Linked DNA regions of Homo sapiens. The protein of the gene in region 2 purifies or fractionates together with the protein of the main gene of each other region. This does not show direct contact. Each region holds a gene or a part of one and is shown on either strand. Other genes may lie near its edges.

Region 1 (7,027 bases), on a different chromosome or scaffold from region 2:
ACAAATTATGGTGGAATACAGTAGATATAGGTATGGAAAAAATACTGAACTTACCAAACAAACAGTAATTCAAGTTGGATCATTGCCTAAAATGTAAAATCTAAAACCATAAAGCATTTAGCCTAAAGCATGAGAAAACAAGTAGATAAAGGTTTCTTAGGGAACAGTAATAACTATGAAAGAAAAAAATTGATAAATTAGACTTCATAAAAATTTAAAACTTCTGCTTCTCAAATGATACCGTTAAGAAAATAAATAGGCAGCCAACAGACTGGGAGAAAATATGATCATGTTTAAACTCTTACCTTGAACTCATCTGAGATTTCAGACACAAAAGAAGATATCTGCTTCATGAGCCGGTCCACACTGCTCTCACTTCCTGTTTTGAGGAGTGTAGTAATGGCTAAGGTAGCAATGCTTCTGTTTGAGTCTGTGATTAAGTTTTCTAAGTCCAGATTGCAGGCAGTAACAGCAGAGGGGTGCTTCATTGCCACCTTGTGGAAGGGCAAGAAAAAAAATTAAGCAAATTGCTTTTGATAAAGGCCAGAACTTAAATTTTAATTGAGGTAAGTGGCAATCCAAAGAGGACAGGATAAGTTAAAAGTAATTGCTTCAAAAACAAAAAGAATGGCTCCAGTTAACAAGGTATATCTTTTAATAAATGATCAACGGCCAGAGTATAGCATCGTACTCTCTTTTGTTAGGTTCCTCTAACCTTTCTAACATTACCATTTTTAAAAAATTATAATTGGCCTGTATTTCCTTATAGTACGTGTGTTCATATACGTCTATTCTATTAGATGTTAGGAGTACTGACAACAGGATCTAGCATAGTAGTCAGTGCTCGACAAAGACTGTTAATATCTTATCAGTTAAAAAATACTGCTGCATTTCAAGACGCAAACTCCAGCCAAACTGCATTATCTATGGTTACTACATGGTCTGCCATTCTCCTGCATCCTTGTTTTTGTTGATGTTGTCCCACCTCTTTGTCTATCCCAATATTGGTATGGAATCCCTTACCCACAATTTGGAAAATCTGAAAACACTCTGGAAAGCAGAGCACTGGGATGAAAATCCATTTAACAGCAAAACATGACCCAAACTAATGCGAAACTCTTTAATTCTTAATTTATACCACTTGACAAGGATAGTCATATGTTTTGTGCAAAAATATTAATGTTTTTTAATGGTGGGATGCTGCCCCAGGCCCACTGGGGTTAGTAAATAAGAGATAACACCATATAACCTTTCTAAAATTTAACTAAAAGCAAATTCTGAGACACATCTGGCCCCAAGATTAGAGATGAGGGATTGTAGACCTGTATCAACTCTTTAAAAACAATTTAGGCCAGGCTTGGTGGCTCATACCTGCAATCCCAGCACTCTGGGAGGCCGAGGTGGGCAGATCACCTGAGGTCACGAGTTTGAGAGCAGCCTGGCCAACATGGCGAAACCCTGTCTCTACTAAAAATACAAAAATTAGCCGGACGTGGTGGCAGGTGCCTGTGATCCCTGCTATTTGGGAGGCTGAGGCATGAGAATCGCTTGAACCTGGGAGGCGGAGGTTGCAGTGTGCCAAGATCGTGCCACTGCACTCTAGCCTGGGAGACAAAGTGAGACTCTGTCTCCAAAAAAAATAAATAAATAAAAAACCATTTAAATTGTTGTTCTATAAAGGTTTCTTCCATGGCTGCTCTAAACTTCTCTTTTCTTCGACTGTTTACACAATTAATTTATAATTATGTATTGCCTATGACAAGTCTTCTATTACATTTAACTTTCATTTACATTTTCTATGCTTATTTAATTTATTCTGTGTTTCTGTATTATATCCTCTAAATCTATACTGTCTAATAACATAGCCAACAGCAACATGTGACTACCAGGCATTTGAAAGGTGGCTAATCCAAACTGAGTATGCTGTAAATGTAAATATACTGGATGTCAAAAACTTGAGATATGTAAAAATATCTATTACATGTTGAGATGACATATTATATGTATTATGATAAAATATACTATTAAAATTAATTTTACCTTAAAAATTTTAATGTGGTTATTATGAAATTTAATATTACATATGTGATTCACAGTGGGTTTCTACTGGACAGGGCTGCTGTAGACCAGCACTGTGCAAGAGAACTTTCTTCAATGACAGAAATGTTCAAGATCTGCACTGTCCAACAGCCACTGACCACATGTGGCTGTGAGTACAAGAAGTGTGACTCATGTGACTGAGGGTTGAATTTTTTATTTTAATTAATTTAAATTGAAATAGCCACTGGTGGCTAATGGCCACCATATTGGACAGTGTGGCTCTTGAATATAAAATGCTTAGAAGTCAGAAATGAGTTATAATCTTCAGCTAAATAATAATAAAAATGAGCATACTCAAGGCCACAAATACAAGTGAAGTGTTGTAGAGGTGAAGCCCATAAATCACATATACTAACCTTGGAGAGAAAACCAAATGCTTCACATTTAATGTTTCTCAATTAAATACTGATATAAGTCAATAATTAGCAAAGAAACACCTACCTTGTTCAAGGTCCTCACAGCTGCATATCTCAAGGCTGGCTTAGGAGAACTACAGAAAAGTTGAAGAACTAAAAAAAAATAATAATAATAATATGTAACATTAAGTAATATTACATATACATACCGTGAATACTCCTGGCTTAAGAGAACTATAGAAAAGTTGAAGAAGTAAAATACAGATATAGATACAGTGACTATTACCTATATATGCTGTGAATATTCCTTATCTCATCATATACCATATAGCTGAAAATATAGTACATAATGAATCACATTCAAAATATGCATACATTTTATCACAGCATCAAAAATTTACATGAAAAATGTAACATCAAAATAGAAAAAGCACTTTTGGGGCGCCTGTAGTCCCAGCTACTCGGGAGGCTGAGGCAGAAGCATGGCGTGAACCCAGGAGGCAGAGCTTGCAGTGAGCCGAGCTATCGTGCCACTGCACTCCTGCCTCAGTGACAGAGTGAGACTCCGTCTCAAAAAAAAAAAAAAAAAAGAAAAAAAAAAAAGAAAAAGCACTTTTGGTCAGTTATAAAAACTTAAATAAGAAACAAAGTTTGCTCTTTTTAAAAAAAAATTAGAATACCCATTAATACCTGAACTAAATGGTAGAAATATTGACAGTTCTGAAAACAAATGGGCTTTTTAAACACCAAGGAAAACTGTAAAATGTTTTCAAAAGTTTCATACGAGGAAACAGAAACTTTAAAAAAAAGCAATAAAGAACTATTATTAATAAACTATGTACATATAAATAAAATTCTTTCAAAAGTTTTATATGGAGAAATAGAAACATTAAAAAAAGTAATAAAGTAAGGAACAACTAAAATAAACTATCTACATATAAGCTATCAGAATGCAAAGGCTATATATACACAGAGCTAGTGTTCAGAAAACATTCTTAATACCTATTCTGTAGACCTATGAAACTTAAAGCAAAAACTTAGGAACATAAAAGCCAGCCATCAAATATAAAACAAACCTGAAACAGCAGGTGCCAACTCTCTTGCAGTGCAGTTAGGAAGATGGATGATAGCTGAAGCAGCTTCATAAATAACCATTTCATGTTTATTTCGCAAGCAGCTCTCAATGAAATCAAACAGTGGACTTTCATGGCTGCCAATAAATATTTATAGGCCATTATTTAGATATCAAATAGAGAGGCAATATGCATAGGGATTAAAAGCACAGGCAGATTGAGAGGCACTTCTGGAATGGTGGATGAGGGATTTCTAAAAATTCATTTCATCACAAAGCAATTAGAACACTGGCAAAATTGTCAAAATCAACTTTTGCAGAACTCTAAAAAATTAATCAAAGATTTGCAACAATCCTGAACATCTATTTAAGAAAAGTAGCTGAATCTTAGTAAAAATGGTGAAGTTTCTGGTGTTTTAACCTACTCATTCTCAATTTCCATGCACCTCTTCCCAGTTCCATAGCAGTCTTGGAAACCAGCAGCCTCAGAACCACAGTAACTGTGAATGCCAGCAGCCTAGCTACAAAAGCAGCTCTGGGCCAAAATCTCATCCCCAGAGAACTGTCACTATGTGACCTGTCTGGTGCTCCTAGAAAAGCCCTATTCACAGGCTAATCTTTACTTCACCTGACTCAAGAGCTCATTCAGCATGAAAAGCCCTATGCCCAGGGAGTTTGTCCAAAAAAATCAGTAGTATTTGGTTAATCTTGCAGCTGCCAGAAGCAGCAATTTTAGCAGGGGCAAACAAGAGGCTGGCCAAAAAACTTAAAAGGAAAATTTGAGAAATGAGATGTCCTTAGGGGGCTTTGAAAATTTCTAAAATATTTCTGGGGATACAGAAGGTCATGTGCATGTGCAGGGCTAAGCAAACAGCCACTAAAGACCTGACAGAGCTCCGCTCTCTAACCTTTGCTTGACTCTGAGGCTCTGCACAAAGCAGGAAGTGAAGGCTAAGGCAGAGCTGTGAACTCCCGGGGCATGGAAAGCACGCCCCAACATACACAGCACCCGTTGGAAAATGATGGGAGACATACTGGTTTAAAGCATTTAAGAAAATCTGTCAAATTATTATTTGTGACTCAGCTAATCAAACAAAGACTTCAGTGTCTATACAAGATACAGAATAAAGACTACAGAAATAGTCCAGGAAGGTCACAAACAACAACAAAAACAACAAACCCCAGGGATAGGGAAAGGGAAGGTCTGATTACCAGTGTTGTCACATTATAATATTTAAAATATAATGTTTCTGACAAAATAATTATGAGACACACAAAGAAATACTTAACTATGACCCATCTATGGGGGAAAAAAAGTAGTCAATAGAATTTATTCCTGAGGAAGCCCAGATGTTGAACTTACTGGCAAAAACTTTAAGTCAGCTAATATAAATATGTTCAAAGAACTAAAGGAAACTAAAATATTTAATTTAAAGGGAAGTACAACAAGATGTCTTATGAGACTACCAATAAAGTGACAGAAATGATTTTTTTTTTTAAGAAACCAAATAGAAATTCTAGATTTGCAAAGTGCAATGACTGGAATGAAAAATTCACCAGAAAAAGTTCAATAGCAGACTTGCACAGGCAGATGAAAGAATAAGAAAACTTGTAGATCTACTGAGATAAACCAGCTGATGAAAATAAAAAAAGAAGGAAGAAAAATGAACAGTGCTTTGGAGACCTGTGTAACATGACCAAGGGTACCAACATTTTGGATGATAGGAGTTTTCATAGGAAAAGAGAGACACAAAGGGGAAAAAGAACATAAGAAGAAACCATGGCTGAAAACCTCATAAGTTTGATTTAGAAAAAACATTAATTTATGTACCCAAGAGGCTCAAAAAGTCTCAAGCAGAATAAATACAAAAATATTCAAATATATACACATCAGAGTGAAACTGTTGAAAGCATAAAAATAGTCATTCTGACTGGTGTGAAATTGTATCTCATTGTGGTTTCGATTTGCATTTCTCTAATGATTAGTGATGTTGACCATTTTTTCATATGCTTGGTACCATCTTGTACCAGTCAGAATAGCTATTATTAAAAAGTCAAAAAGTAACAGATGCTGGTGAGGTTGCAGAGAAAAGGGAATGCTTACACACTGCTGTTGGGAATGCAAATTAGTTCAGCCACTGTGGAAAGCAGTTTGGAGATTTCTCAAAGACCTCAGAACTACCATTCAATCCAGCAATCCCATTACTAAATACGAACCCGAAGGAATATGAATTGTTCTTCTTAGGTTTTGATGAGAAGGCGAGGATTAAAGAAAGACTGAGAGAGAGTTGGCGGCTCTACAGCAATGCAGGTTTTATGTCCAGCATAAGACCTGCAGAGGCGGGGCACCAGCTTAATGCCAGGGCCCACCTCTGCTTACAGGCTGGGGCAATTTTAGGCCTGGGAGGGAGGGGTCTGAGGGTTATGGCTTGCTGCCCGGGAGGATGTTGATAAGATGTTCCCATGATGAGGTGGTTTGGCCCTTGTTCTGGCAGGATGTGACAGTGATGTTCCTTGGACTTTTTCCCAGCAGAATGTGATAAGAAAGTCAGGCAGTCGGGCAGGATGTTTCTCACGGCCCAGTCCCCCAAGGAATGTTTCACTTTGATCAAGGTCTATGAAATGACAAGGGGCTTACAAAATGGTACAGTTTGGACTAACAGTTCTACCATAAAGACACAGGCCCTCCTATGTTCACTGCACCACTACACACAATAGCAAAGACATGGAATCAACCTAGATACCCAACAACAGTGGACTGGATGAAGAAAACGTAGTACATATACACCATGGAATACTATGCAGCCATAAAAATGAATGAGATTATGTCCATTGCAGCAACATCGATAGAGCTGGAGGCCATTATCCTAAGCAAATTAACACAGGGACAGAAAACCAAATACTGCATGTTTTCACTTATAAGGGAAGCTAAACATTGAGTGCACATGGTCACAAAGAAGGGAACAATAGGCACTGGAGCCTACTTGAGGGTGTAGGGTGGGAGAGGATGAGGATAAAAAAACTACCAACTGGGTGGTACCAAGAAGTTTGAGATTATGCTAAATGACCAAACCTAAGAATAACTGGTGTTCCCAAGGAAGAAGATAAATCTAAAAGTTTGGAAAACTTATTTGAAGGAATAATCAAGGAAAACTTCCCCGGCCTTGCAAGAGACCTAGACATCCAAATACAAGAAGCTCAAAGAACAGCCAGAAAATTCATCACAAAAAGATCATCACCTATGCATTTAGTCATCAGATTATCTAAAGTCAAGATGAAGGAAAGAATCTTAAGAGCTGTGAGGCACAAGCATCAGGTAAGCTATAAAGGAAAACCTACCAGATTAACAGCAGATTTCTCAGCAGAAACCCTACAAACTAGAAGGGACTGGGGTCCTATCGATAGCCTCCTTAAAAAAAATAATTATCAGCCAAGAATTTTGTATCCAGTGAAACTAAGCTTCATAAATGAAGGAAAGATAAAGTTCTTTTCAGATAAA
Region 2 (7,027 bases):
GGCATGAGCCAGCGCACCTGGCCTTTGTTGTTTTGAAGTATATGAGTTTAGAATTATTTATCTTTTTAAAATATTCTAGCGATGAGTCTCCTTATCTATAATAATAATTTTTGCCTTAAAGTTTATTTGTCTGGTATCAATAGAGTAATGTCAATTTATTTGGTTAATTTTGCCTGTTAAATATTTTTCTATCTGTCTACTTTGTTTTTCTATATGTTAGGTATATCTCTTACACCTAATCTATGTCTAGATTTAAAAATATGTATAATTTCAGAGTCACTCTTAAATGGTCAATTTGGTATTTTTTGTTTATTGTGATAACTGATATTTGGGTTCATTTCTATCATCTTATTTTTTGATTTAAAAAATTTTATTATGTATTTTCTACTTCTTCCCTTTTAGGAGTTGATCACATTTTTATGTTTTCTTTTTCTTCTTTTGCTAGTTTAAAAGTCATACATTCTGTTTCAATTCCCTTTTATCTTTTGAGACAGAGTCTCGCTGTGTCACCCAGGCTGGAGTGCAGTGGTGTGATCTTGGCTCACTGCAGCCTCTGCCTCCCAGGTTCAAGTGATTCTCCTGCCTCACCTTCCTAAACAGCTAGGATTACAGGCATTTGCCACCATGCCCAGCTAATTTTTGTATTATTAGTAGAGATGGGGTTTCACCATGCTGCCCAGGTTGGTCTTGAACTCCTGGCCTCAAGTGATCCGTCCCCTCCCGCCCCACCCGCCGAAACCACCTTTGGCCTCCTAAAGTTCTGGGATTACAAGTGTGAGCCACCATGTTTGGCCATGTTTCAATTCCTTTAATGACGTTTATGTTTTGTAACGTGTTCTTGATTAATTTGAGAATTTAAGCTTCTATCTTCCCAAAAAAGAATCTTAGAAATTCTAACCAAAATCATTCCTCTCTGATTTTGCATGTTATTGTTTGTTATTTTGGTTCCACCTTGTTTCTATATCACTAAAACTTAATTCTTGGGCCGGATGTGGTGGCTTATGCCTGTAATCCCAGCACTTTCAGAGGCCAAGGCAGGAGGATCACTTGAGCCCAGGAATTCGAGACCAGCCTGGGCAACATGGTGAGACCCTGTCTTTACAAAAAATACAAAAATTAGTCAGATGTGGTGGTGCACACTTGTAGTCCCAGCTATCCAGGAGGCTGAGGTGGGAGGATCTCTTGAGCCTGGGAGGTTGAGGCTGCAGTGAGCTGTGATCATGACTGTACCACCATACTTCAGCCTGGGTGACAGAGACCTTGTCTCTTAAAAAAAAAAAAAAAAAAGTAAATCCAAAGAACAAGCATATAAATCAACTTTGCTAGTAATTAAAACATACAAAGTAAAGCGAGATGGTTTAGTTAGATTAGCAAACATTAAAAATGATTTTTAATGCCCAATGGGTTCTGAGAAAACAGTCAAACTATTGAGGACTGGGTAACATAGTAAGACCCTAGTTCTACAAAAAAATTTAAAAGTTAGCTGGGCATGGTGGCATATTCCTGTAGTCCCAGCTACTCAGGAGGCTGAGGCAGGAGGATTGCTTGAGTCCAGGAGATGAAGGCTGCAGTGAGCTATGATTGCATCATTACACTCCAGCTTGGGCAACAGAGCAGGACTCTGTCTCAAAAATACAATTAAAATAGTGTAGATACTACAATCTAATTTTGTGTATAAAGGCTGGGTGCAGTGGCTCACGCCTGTAATCCCAGCACTTTGGGAGGCCAAGATGGGCAGATCACTTGAGAATCAGGAATTTGAGAGCAGCCTGGCCAACATGGTGAAATCACATCTCTACTAAAAATATAAAAATTAGCCAGGCATGGTGGCGGGCTCCTGTAATCCCAGCTACTTGGGAGGCTAAGGCAGGAGAATCGCTTGAACCCGGGAGGCTGAAGTTGCAGTGAGCCAAGAATGTGCCACTGAACTGCAGCCTGGGTGACAGAGTGAGACTCCGTCTCAAAAATAAATAAATAATTTTGTGTATAAAACGTGGAAAAATATGGTGGCAGGCACCCATAGTCCTAGCTACTCGGGAGGCTGAGGCAGGAGAATGGCGTGAACCCGGTAGGCGGAGCTTGCAGTGAGCCGAGATCACACCACTGCACTCCAGTCTAGGCCACAGAGCAAGGCTCCGTCTCAAAAAAAAAAAAAAAAGAAAAAAGAAAAATAAAAGCATTAAAAAGACTGAAAGAGTTTATGCCAAAATTTATTCTCTTCTATATTTTTCAGATTTTTTCACTTAATTTGTTATTTGAAATATACTTGTTTTGTGTAAGTATAAGGAAATATATACATATGCACACATGCATATAAACATTTTAAGAATGTGTTATAATAAAAGTATATTATTTGATACCTTTGGAAATATCCCCATTTTTCTACCTGAAGAAAATTCCTAATTTCATGGTTTGGAAACAGGTTTATGAGCACTCTTTATAGAGAAACGGTGTTAGTATCTATAGATGACCTGGAAATGGAGACCTAAAAAGTTTCTGAAAAGTTATGTCGTTGGTTTTGCTAGTACGGTCACGACCATAGTAATCTTTGGTACGTGCCCCACAGGCTCCAGAAAATAAAAGTCAAGCTGCTTTTGCTTGACTGCGGTTTTACCCTGGCAATTCGAATGACTCTGCTTTCCTCTTCAGGCTCCCGGAGAGAGAGATGTGGGTACCGCCTTGTGCGGAGACAGAGAAGTGCCGACGAGCAGCTGCACTGTGCCGGCAAGGCCAAGAGAAGTGGCGGCCACGCGCCCCGAGTGCGGGAGCTGCTGCTGGACGCCCTGAGCCCCGAGCAGCTAGTGCTCACCCTCCTGGAGGCTGAGCCGCCCCATGTGCTGATCAGCCGCCCCAGTGCGCCCTTCACCGAGGCCTCCATGATGATGTCCCTGACCAAGTTGGCCGACAAGGAGTTGGTACACATGATCAGCTGGGCCAAGAAGATTCCCGGTAGGGCTTTCTGGCTATCAGTTTTCCATGTACTTGTAGAAAGGCCGGCCGCTAATATTTAAGGGGCAAGAGTACAAAGTAGAGGTCCATGAGCTGTGCCTAGATATTTAACAGGTCCTCAGCTGGATTTGTAACTTTTAAGTGCAATATGTTCCTTCCTTCTGTCTTGGCATACCTACCTTCAACAAGGCCGTGTTCTGATTTAGAATTCTGAGACTCTTCTGAGTTCTGTACCCAACATGGTAGTGCAGAAAGAGTTGTGCGTGGCCCAGCCATTTCTATTCTTGACTGCCTTCTTTTCCCATGGCTAGATGCATCCCATACCACCTTGCACAAACCCTATCCTGTGTGTCCACATCTGCTACAGACACTCACCTGTTGGCCACCTCTCATGCCTAGAGGTGGTCTGGGAGGATGGACCCAGGGAACCTACCTAGGCTCTGGAATTGGGCTTGGGGTCATTTGGGCAAGAATCCTAGAGTCCTGGAACCTGGAACGTGGTTAAAATGATAGACTCCACATTGACCCATTTCTTGGCTGTGGATTCCTCACCTTGAAAGGAGGGGTGGGGTAGAGTACAGTATGACTAGTTTGAAAGTGAAAGGTTTGTCAGATGCTAAATAGAATTTTGTAAATTATTGTTCCAGTAGAGAATCAATATTATGTACATAAATGAATATGTATGGACAAACAGAGTAAATCAGTGGTTGAAGTTACACGAATCATCAATGGGCCCATAAACCTGGAATGCCATCAAGTTAAAAATGAGCTTAGTTACTCATGAGTTGTCACTTGGAACCTGCGTTTTCCATCCTCCAAAGTGATCACTTCTCTCAAGCCCATTTGTAATATATATCTGAAGTGCTGTATGATGCTAAAATTACCAGCTAATTATCATTTGACTTGGTGTTTCTGTGGAGGAGTGAATCTAGGATTCTAACCTAGAGTGGCAACACCCCACGATCCCCCTGTGACAGCTTCTCCATGCTGTTCTTTACAGTCCTTGAAGAAATGAAGTCTCTTATAAGTTCTGAGCCACTGGGGGCATTCCCATGGCCTGGAGGGCAGCGACTGCACTGGGCAAGCTGTAAAGATGAGGAGGGGTGAGAAGCTGGGGGAAGAGAAGTTTTGGGTAAAGAGCCTGGGGAACTGAGGCCTATGGTGACAGTATCATTTGGGGACTTTTGTTGGCCTGGGCCCATTTCTTCTGAGCTTCCTGAGGATTTTTGGTTTCTAGTTGTATTTTGTTTTGTCTAGCATCTTCACCTTTGCCAGAATTATTTTATTTTCTCTGCTTTTTCCCAGGGGAGGCAATACTGATGCACTTTCCTCTAGTTTTTGCTTTAAATGTATTCCAAACACGATTTTGCAGGACCACACATGGAGAGCAGTGGTGAAATTAATTATTGCTGAAAGCTGTGCACCTTCTTTGTGCCATAAGAAATCTGAACTCTTAAACTGCATTATTCCTTATTCAAGCCTGGTGTTTTGAAAAGTTTTCAGGAAACGTAGACATAATCTGAAGGCGTGATTTTTTTTCTCCTCTCTTAGCTGGCATAGTCATTGTCCAAACCAAAAAATATATATTAAAATATCATCTAGCCTTGATCTTGTTGAATATCTACAAGATTAAGAACCGTGATCTCTCTTGGGTAGGCTTATTGTCAATCACTATGGGTGAGACTGGGAAGGTATATACACATTAGGAACCTAAACTGAGCAAAGCATGTGGATTTAGAAAGTATTTATCCATCTTTACATTCATAACACCATTACATTCTCCTTGAGGCAGATTTGCGTTATAATTGTTCAAAGACTTGAACCATGTGTGTTCTCTCTGCTGTAGTTTCCTCATCTGTAAAACAAGAATGATAAGAGATCCTGCCTATAAGACATTCTCAGAGATAGGCATTGTTACCCCCATTTTCCTATAAGAAAAACAAAGACTTAATGGGAGATTAAGTGAACAGCTAGAAAGAGGCTGAGCTGGGGTTCGAACCAGAGTCCATTTCACTCCAAGGCGGTGTCTTTTGTTATCATATTTATATTACATGGCCCTCTCTTTTTATCATGGCTTGTGAAGGAAGCCCCGGTGTTCTCTGCTTTGCTTTTGAAGTGCTTCCCTCCCCAGAGATTACCTGTTTGCAAACAGTACTGTGACCAACATGGGTTATTAGGTTGTCAGGACCTGCTTCGTTATTATATTTGCTCTTTATTTATTTATTTATTTATTTATTTTTGAGACAGGGTCTCGCTCTGTTGCCCAGGCTGGAGTGCAGTGGCGTGATCTCAGCTCACTACAGCCTCGACCTCCTGGGCTCAGGCGATCATCCCACTTCAGCCTCCAGAGTATCTGGGACTACAGGCACCTGCCACCATGACCAGATAATTTTCTGTAGAGATGGGGTTTCTCCATGTTGGCCAGGCTGGTCTCAAACTCCTGGGTGCAGGCAATCCACCCACCTTGACCTCCCAAAGTGCTGGGATTACAGGTGTGCTTGGCTATATTTGCTGTTTAGGATAGAATCACCCAGAAACAGTGCTTCTACCCAGAAGAAGGATCTTAACACTGGATAGGAAATTTTAATCAATCAGAGAAATCCTTGCAGTTGAGGCCTTGGTTTTCTGTGAGGGCTGGCACTGCTCTCTGCAAGCCTCCAACCCCAACCTCCACCTACCCCATCCCCCACCTACCCCATCCCCCACCCCTTCTGATCCCAGTCAAGGATTGGGTCAGACAGGCAGGTCTTCTGACTGGCAGCCAAGCATCAACATTCTCAGTAGTGCAGAGGAATTATCAGGACACAGCTAACAAAGATCAGTTCTGAGCCGAGGTCGTAGTGCTTGACAAACTCTAAATGAAGTATATTTGTCTCTAGAAGGGGTCCAAGACTGGAAACTAAGTTGCGCAGCTTAACTTCAAAGTTTTCTTCCTTTAATGAGCAGTTAATCACATCTATAAAATATCAACTCCCTAATGGTTTGTGTTTTCTTAGTGTTTTAACACTTGCCATTCTGTCTCTACACACACAGGGAGCTGAGGAGGAGGGGTGGGGGTGTCTCACCGCCTCTTGCTTTCCCCAGGCTTTGTGGAGCTCAGCCTGTTCGACCAAGTGCGGCTCTTGGAGAGCTGTTGGATGGAGGTGTTAATGATGGGGCTGATGTGGCGCTCAATTGACCACCCCGGCAAGCTCATCTTTGCTCCAGATCTTGTTCTGGACAGGTGAGAAAAAATACATTGTGTTTCTTCTCTGACTTGTTTGAGTAAGGTGCTTAGTGAGTGGGAACAAAGTCCTGGGTGCTGCAATTAAAATCTCACACTTGCAGGGCAGAGGATGATAGCATCATCAGCTCCTTCACTGGGTCAAGAACCAGAGAAGGAGAGAGTTGGGTCCAAGGATTCAGGGTCCTGTGACTCATTTTTAATCTGTGGTGCAGCAGCATTTACAGGCCAGCGCTTTAATAGGGGACTGTATCCCGTAGGTATGTGGCCACTATGTGTATAAGTCGACACAGATTTTTCTCCATTAAAAATTCCATTTTCAGGTTATAATCTTAAGTTGTCCTGCTGTTTTTTGTACCTATAGTGACCAATTATATCTGGAGCTTTCTGGACAGGTGATAAAATTCTTAGAAATGTGCCAAGTTTATTTTCACATGCTTTAACTCACTCTTTTGTTTTTTTTTGTTTTGTTTTGTTTTGTTTTTTGTTTTTTTTCTGAGATGGAGTCTCTCTCTGTTGCTCAGGCTGGAGTGCAGAGGTGCAATCTTGGCTCACTGCAACCTCCGCCTACCGGATTCAAGTGATCCTGCTGCCTCAGCCTCTCAAGTAGTTGGGATCACAGGTGTCCACCACCATGCCAGGCTAATTTTTCTATTTTTAGTAGAGAAGTGGTTTCACCATGTTGGCCAGGCTGGTCTTGAACTCCTGACCTCAGGCGATCTGCCCACCTCAGCTTCCCAAAGCGCTGGGATTACAGGCGTGAGCCACCATGCCCGATCTGCTTTAACACATTCTAATGCATGTACTATATAGCATTTTTGGCAATAGCGGTGGAAGGAAGGGTTACTAAAACTA
Region 3 (7,027 bases), on a different chromosome or scaffold from region 2:
TTATAAGATGCCCAGACCTGCTGTAAAATAATTTTAAAGCTCCACAGGTTTAGACTTCACTGTGCTAGAAACTCCTCTCTCACAAGATGTTTGGTGACTTACAAATCTTAAGGGAGAAATTCAACTGACAGTTCGAATTACAAATAAGAAACAGAATTATTATCAATCCCAAAACTTTTTCAAAAGACACATATCTCAGAGTCAGGTTTTCTTCTTGAAAGAGCAATGAGTCAGCAAGCATTTAGAGAGGGCACCTACTAAGTCTCAGCATAAGACATACTCCTTGCCCTCAAAGGAGCACACAAAAACACAAACTCAATGCATGCGAAATAACAGGAAACTACTATTTAACTATTCAAAATTGTGTGGTATAGAACAAGTCCAGATGGGAAACATGCTCCATCTTTTGTGCCAACTTGATCAAGTGGCATGGCTGACTGCAGCTGTGTTGAGGATTGTGAGGCCAGGGCAAAAGCACATTGAGGAATGATTAGAGATGCCAACCACAGGGCAAGAGTGGACTGTGGATCTGCAAACCTGTTCTAACATACACAGAAGCTGAGGGACAATTTTGGTGATGGCTTACCGCCCATTAGGATTGTGCTGAATAGTCTGAGGGTATATTTCACAACTGCCCATATCCTTTACTGCCAGTGGCAATCTTTCACCATCTTTAATTTCAGCATCTCCCATTGCTTTTAGGTTGGCCTGCTGGACTTCTGAATGCTTGGCCCAAATTATCTTTCCATTGGCATCCATGGACATGGCAGGTTCCTCCCGACCAAGCTGAAAGAAAGAAAAATAGCTCTCAGCAATGAAAAGGAAAATGAATAAAACCAAAACAAAACAGATTATTTTTTTCACCTAACAGAGAGCTCCATTTCCTTTCTTCCACTTTAAATCTTCATTGCTTAATGTCTAGTGCTTAATGAAAGAAGTGCCAGTTTTATAAAACTGGTTACTTGGAAGATGACAGTACTAAAATACAAAGAAAATGGTTTTGCCTATGTCCACCTACTGAGAGGGATAGTATAATTACCTTAACAATGATGCTCCCTTCATCATAGCCCAAAGCGACATTGTTTGACCCTCTTAGACTGGCCACGCACCATACCCTCTCCATTCCATAATTCAGTGTGCTCTCAAGCCGGTAGGTGCTTGAATGCCAAATACGTACTGTTCCTAAAAAGAACAATGTAAATACTCCCTTTTGATACAAACATCCGACAATAAACTGTGTCAGGTGAAAGAGACCCATAGAAGTCTTTCTATTCAAACAGATAACACTTCCTGGCAGCTTAATGACCAATTTTTTGACCTACTGTCTTTAAATGATTTTTAAAAGCAACATAAACATAACACATAACATATAAGAAACAAAAACTAAGAATTACGATTTTAAACATGAAATAATAACAGGATTTCCTGGGTAAAGTGTTTCCTATGTGCCAGATGCTTTCTACCCACAATTTCTTCTCACTATAATTTTATGAAGCAGATATATATGTTTCCATTTCATAATTTGCCCAAACACACATTCATGACATAACAGAGCCTGATTTTGAACCCAGGTTTGTTTGACTCCAAAGCACATGCTTTTTCAGTTTCTCTTTAGGACAGCTGACGGTCCTCTTATTTAAGTGACAGAATCAAAATACATGAGAATGATGACGATGATGATGATGATGATGATGATGATGATGAAAATAATGCCCCTTTACTCTTTTATAGCTTAAGTCTGGTACTTTAATAAAAATATCAAAATCCTTGGAAACCTACAATTATAATGCAGAGACATTACTTGCTTTAAATGCCCACTGAGTAGTTACTAGCACAGGAATAAACATACCCTTCTAACTTACCATCTTCTGAACCTGTGATAATGATTGGCAACTCAGGATGAAAGCTGGCACAAGACACATTTTGGGCATGTCCTTCCAGTGTCTGCACACATGTTTTATTCTGTAATTAAGACATAGAAAACATGTTTTATTAATGAAAAACATGTAACCAGCCCGCCCTTAATTTTCTCAGTGTACAGATACATTATAAATGATAGTAGTCATGAAAATCTAAATAATATCCAATATAGAAATTTTTGAAATAGGATGATCTTGTTGTATATATGAATATTTTATCTAATTACTTTGTAAAATAAATGTAAATGTAACTATCACATTTAAAGAAGGGGAAAAAAACCCAAGAAGGCTTTTGTCTGAATATTATTCCCCCAAATTCTCAGGATAATAGATTTCCCCCTTAAAACTCACACCTACCATCACTGGCTAAGTAGACAGTGCTGCTTTAGCCTTTAATATTTTTATTCTGGATTTAAGTACAAATCTGAAAATGTTTCAAGGAAAAACTGACTTTCTAGACCTCATTTTATTAATTGCTTATGGGAACTTTTGATGTGGAAAACAAAAATATCAAAATATAAGAAAATCTTAGAGATAGGAAGCATGTTAACAAGAATTCATAACTAGGTTTACAAGAGTACGATTTGGCAAAATGGTTGGTAATTGTTGATCTGCTAGCTTACAAAAATGAATAGAAGTCTATCAATGAAGATTATGGAGGATAATTCAACATTAAAATGTTAAAATTTCTAAATGCAATTATGAAATGAAATATGAACATGTTGGTATTTTATTTTTAAAATCTTGATATGCATTGTTTTCATTTTTATGGAGAATTCTGGGAACACAGTTTAGGTGCAAATACTGATACCTTAAGTTATTATGCTGTGAACAGTTTTCAACAACCCAAGTCTTAACTGTCCTATAAGAAATAGTAAGAAACATATCTAACATATGGAAGTAAGGTTATGAAAAACTGTACCTGATAATCCCATATTTTAACAAGACGGTCATCTGCACCTGAAATGAGGTATGGCTTGTCCCCACCACTGTAGTAATCAATGCAATTCACGCCTTTCTCATGTCCTTCCAAAGTGAAGTTTGGTGACGAAGAGCCCAACTGCCACACCTGCAGAGAGAAACAGCATCGGCCAGTCAATATGGGGCCTTGCTTTACAAAAGGCAAATCCACCATATTTCTGACACATTATGTAAAATGCCAAAGCCCAGGAGAGAAGAGCTATCAAATTTTATTTTTTATCCTGTTTGGTTTTTGTTCTTTCTCATTTTACTTGAATTTTCAGGGAGCAAAATCACTATGGCGTTCTTTAAAAGAAGTGCCAATTTCCAGGCTTTATCTCTAGAGATTATAAGTCAGTCAATCCACAGTGACGCCCAGGAATCTAGATGTTATGAAATTATTTTATTATAGATTTAATATACAGCTCATGAAAGTAGATTTAGTAAGATATATTAAAAGTTGCTGGGTGTGGTGGCTCACACCTGTAATCCCAGCACTTTAGGAGGCCGAGATGGAAGTTATCACTTGAGCCCAAGAGCTCAAGACCAACCTGGACAACACAGCAAGACCTTGTCTCTACAAAAAAGTAAAAAGTAAAAAATTAGCTGGGCATGAAGGCACACGCATGTAGTCCTAACAACTCAGGAGGCTGAGGCAGGAGGATCGCTTTAGCCCAGAAGTTTGAGGTTACAGTGAGCTGTGATCATGCCACTGCACTCCAGCCTAGGCAACACAGACCGTAACTCAAAAATACATAAATAAATAAATAAAAATAAAGGCCTATTAAAAGGAGAAAATTACTGCCTAATTACCAATTTAAAGTGTAGAAAATTGTTAAAAATTACCACAGCACAGAATTAAGCTTTATCTTTACAAATATTTATTGAGTGCCTATTATATGGGAGGCCCTGTGGGGAGTATAAACGTGTAACAAATGTTTATCAATTACTGTATAAAATAAACTTTATTGGAACTGAAGATAAGACAATTATTGTTCTCAAGATAAACCTAAATTAGTAAAAATAAAAGTTTACAACTAATTTCAAAGTTAATCTATGTCAAAAGCAAGGATAATCCAATCAAAGGCAAAATAGCTAAGGTTAAAACCCTAAGATATTCAGACACATAACATTTTACATAAAGGAAAACTACTAACAGTGTTTTATATAGGTGAAAGCAAACATGTAAGCAAAAGTTAATTTATTTTAAGTCAATGCATATGGAAATATTTTAATTAATTAATTAATTTATTTATTTATTTGAGATGGAGTCTCGCTCTGTCCCCCAAGTTGGAGCGCAGTGGCGCAATCTCGGCTCACTGCAAGCTCTGCCTCCCAGGTTCATGCCATTCTCCTGCCTCAGCCTCCCGAGTAGATGGGGCTACAGGCGCCTGCCACCACACCCAGCTAATTTTTTGTATTTTTAGTAGAGACGGGGTTTCACCGTGTTAGCCAGGATGGTCTCGATCTCCTGACCTTGTGATCCACCTGCCTCGGTCTCCCAAAGTGCTGGGATTACAGGCGTGAGCCACCGTGCCTGGCATGGAAATATTTTAAATATTATGATAAAAAAAAGAAGCATGATTGCCCTCACTGCAACATGTATTAAGCATCTAGGTCAGGTAAGGCACTTTGCTGTTTGCTATTGAATGGCTGGGGAAAGGGAGTGACACAGTTTCTATCCCCCAAATCCAGTATTTCAGGGGATAAAGATTTCCAAAAACGTGTAATAATAATTCAATCTGAGAAAGGCTGAAACAGAGGCAAAAAGCAATGGAAGAAATGGGATAAGCATAACTGGCTCTGTCTAGAGGTGAAGTTGATGTCTGACAAGAGGTTCTCAAGAGTAAATATTTGTGCTAAACCTTAAAAGCTGAGTAATTCTCCGGAGGAAAATATATCAAAATAGGAAAATAAAGAGAAGTGCAGGAAGATGGAACAGTTCAATGAAGTAAGGTTTTGTGAACATTCATAGCCTCTCTAGAGGATGGTGAGTAGACCAGGGTTTTAGGAGATGTCGCATAATATTAGCCCAGGCTAGTCCTGGAAATCCTTGTATTCCACACTAAGGCATTTGGACTTTATCCTTAGATCAGGAACTGTTTCAGAAAGATAACAGACAGCAGTGTGGTAAAATGGAGTAAGAAAGAGAGAATAGAGGCATATGGAATTTAAATGTAAAATAGATAAACGATGAGCAGAAGTCAACAATGAATACTAAAAGGAGAGGACAGTAGTATCCTAAAAAGATATTGGCATTTTTCTTATTCTGGGTTTCCAAAGGCTAAAAAATTTTTATAACATGCTGCCTCCACACAGAAAAACGCTCCTCATTAAGAGCACTGAGTTGCCACAATATTTTTCTAAACAGAACATGTCGTTTGGATTAAAATGAGAAATCCTATTTTGACTTCAAAACAGGCTTTTGAGGAAAATTTTTAAGATGGGTACATTTCTGACCAGTCAACAGTAAAACACCTAAGGCAAGTATAGTTCACTAATAATGATAACTGACACAAAATGTGGATGCCCTACCTTGATAGTCCTGTCCAAAGAGGCACTGGCAAACTGATTGTTATCTTTGGGGTTGATCACAATCTGCATAACATAATGGGTGTGTCCTTCAAACACTTGTGAGCAAGACCATTTTTTATCCCAGTCCCAGAGCTTAATAAGCATGTCATCTAGGCCAAAAGAAAGTCTCAAGTTAGTTGTAATTCTATTTTTTCACTTCATAACTAAGACACAGTCTTTAGAAGAAGCAAACCTAACACAAACCATATAATCCATGACTTACAGAAATAGAATCAAAACCAAATAGAGTTTTCAAAATGCTTATTTATCTTAAAAATAAATTTAACTCTCTACAGAAAAGTGGAGATAAAATAAATAAAATAGATTAGAAATAGAAAATATAAAAATTCTGTGAAAAAACTTAAAAATTCAGTGGGCATTAAAGAATGGCCAAAGAGTAATATAAGTTTGACTAGATCTAAGCATGACTGAATAGTGATAGCAATGACTATGTAGAGAACAAGCATTTGCCCTCACAAGATTGGTTTTTAAAAAGTTTTTAATTACTTCTCAATTTTTAATTTAAAAACATTTCAAAGAGCTATTACTAATTCAGTGCTACCTCTTTTTCCAGTCCTCCAAGAGGTCTACTATTTATACACAATACCAAGGAGCAAACTAGTTTGAATATAAAGATTGAACTGAATAGGGTCTATGGCAATCTGCCAAAAACTCACTCATCAACATGTAAATGACCTTTCTGTTCAGCAGATGTTTAAACATCTAGACTTGTAGGTCTTCTCTGACAGGAACTGGAGCAATCATTACACAAATCCTAAGTACAGTTGATATTTCATTATAGTACAAACACAAGCAGCATCAATAGCACAGTAATGGATCTAAATAGTTTAAAGGCCGCTTGGAATTAGAATTATATTTGTAACAGCAGTTAAAGCATAGCATGTCTCAGTGAATGAAAATGAATTACCCAAAGAGACGCACATGACCAAAAAAGGTCATCTCTTACCACTGCTAGTTAGAATGAAAGGCTGGGTTGGATGAACAGCAATACAGCGAATGTAGTCTGAGTGTGCTTCAAACATATGAACTCTCTCCAGAGTATTGTAATTGAACACTCTAATCTGCATGTCATCCTAGAAACAGAAATTTTAAAACCATCATCCCTGTTATCAAGTAAATTATACAAAAAAACTATATCACAGGCTCAAGGAATAAAGTCTATGCCTCAAAACATTGCTGTAAATAACAAAACAAATCGGGAATCAAAATCCTGCAACAAATTTACACAATCATTGACCAATTCAGAAAATGGGAATAGAGATTCATATTAATTACTTACCGCTCCTGTCACAACCCAATTCTTCCTTGCAACAAACTTTGCAGCTCGAACAGGAAGATCACATACTTCAAATGTCTTCACCAGTGTCTTTAAAATGTAACAAGAATACACAAATTGAGCTATAAGAAAATAACCACAAAATCTACTCTGTTATATTTCAAACATCCAATTTTTAAGATCACTTCTCATTTTAGTATATTCTCAGGCTAAAATATAAAAGCTCAACATTCAAATTTTTAAAAAAGACCAACTATCTTTTAATAGATTCGAAATT

Evidence for each region.
Region 1: the proteins of ESR2 (region 2) and COPG2 purify together in Homo sapiens (affinity purification with mass spectrometry; 3 studies listed by BioGRID and IntAct, with this or other methods). This does not show direct contact.
Region 3: the proteins of ESR2 (region 2) and COPB2 purify together in Homo sapiens (affinity purification with mass spectrometry; 3 studies listed by BioGRID and IntAct, with this or other methods). This does not show direct contact.

The regions. Positions count from the first base shown.
Region 1 is NC_000007.14:130,560,728-130,567,754, forward strand, and holds part of COPG2 (coatomer subunit gamma-2), read right to left. Parts: intron 3,667-7,027; coding exon 3,533-3,666; intron 2,610-3,532; coding exon 2,542-2,609; intron 495-2,541; coding exon 306-494; intron 1-305. UniProt on the Homo sapiens protein: The coatomer is a cytosolic protein complex that binds to dilysine motifs and reversibly associates with Golgi non-clathrin-coated vesicles, which further mediate biosynthetic protein transport from the ER, via the Golgi up to the trans Golgi network.
Region 2 is NC_000014.9:64,256,371-64,263,397, reverse strand, and holds part of ESR2 (estrogen receptor beta), read left to right. Parts: intron 1-2,649; coding exon 2,650-2,949; intron 2,950-5,982; exon of another isoform or gene 5,983-6,033; coding exon 6,034-6,172; intron 6,173-7,027.
Region 3 is NC_000003.12:139,372,627-139,379,653, forward strand, and holds part of COPB2 (coatomer subunit beta'), read right to left. Parts: intron 6,841-7,027; coding exon 6,754-6,840; intron 6,548-6,753; coding exon 6,421-6,547; intron 5,564-6,420; coding exon 5,415-5,563; intron 2,989-5,414; coding exon 2,842-2,988; intron 1,963-2,841; coding exon 1,863-1,962; intron 1,183-1,862; coding exon 1,040-1,182; intron 787-1,039; coding exon 587-786; intron 1-586. UniProt on the Homo sapiens protein: The coatomer is a cytosolic protein complex that binds to dilysine motifs and reversibly associates with Golgi non-clathrin-coated vesicles, which further mediate biosynthetic protein transport from the ER, via the Golgi up to the trans Golgi network.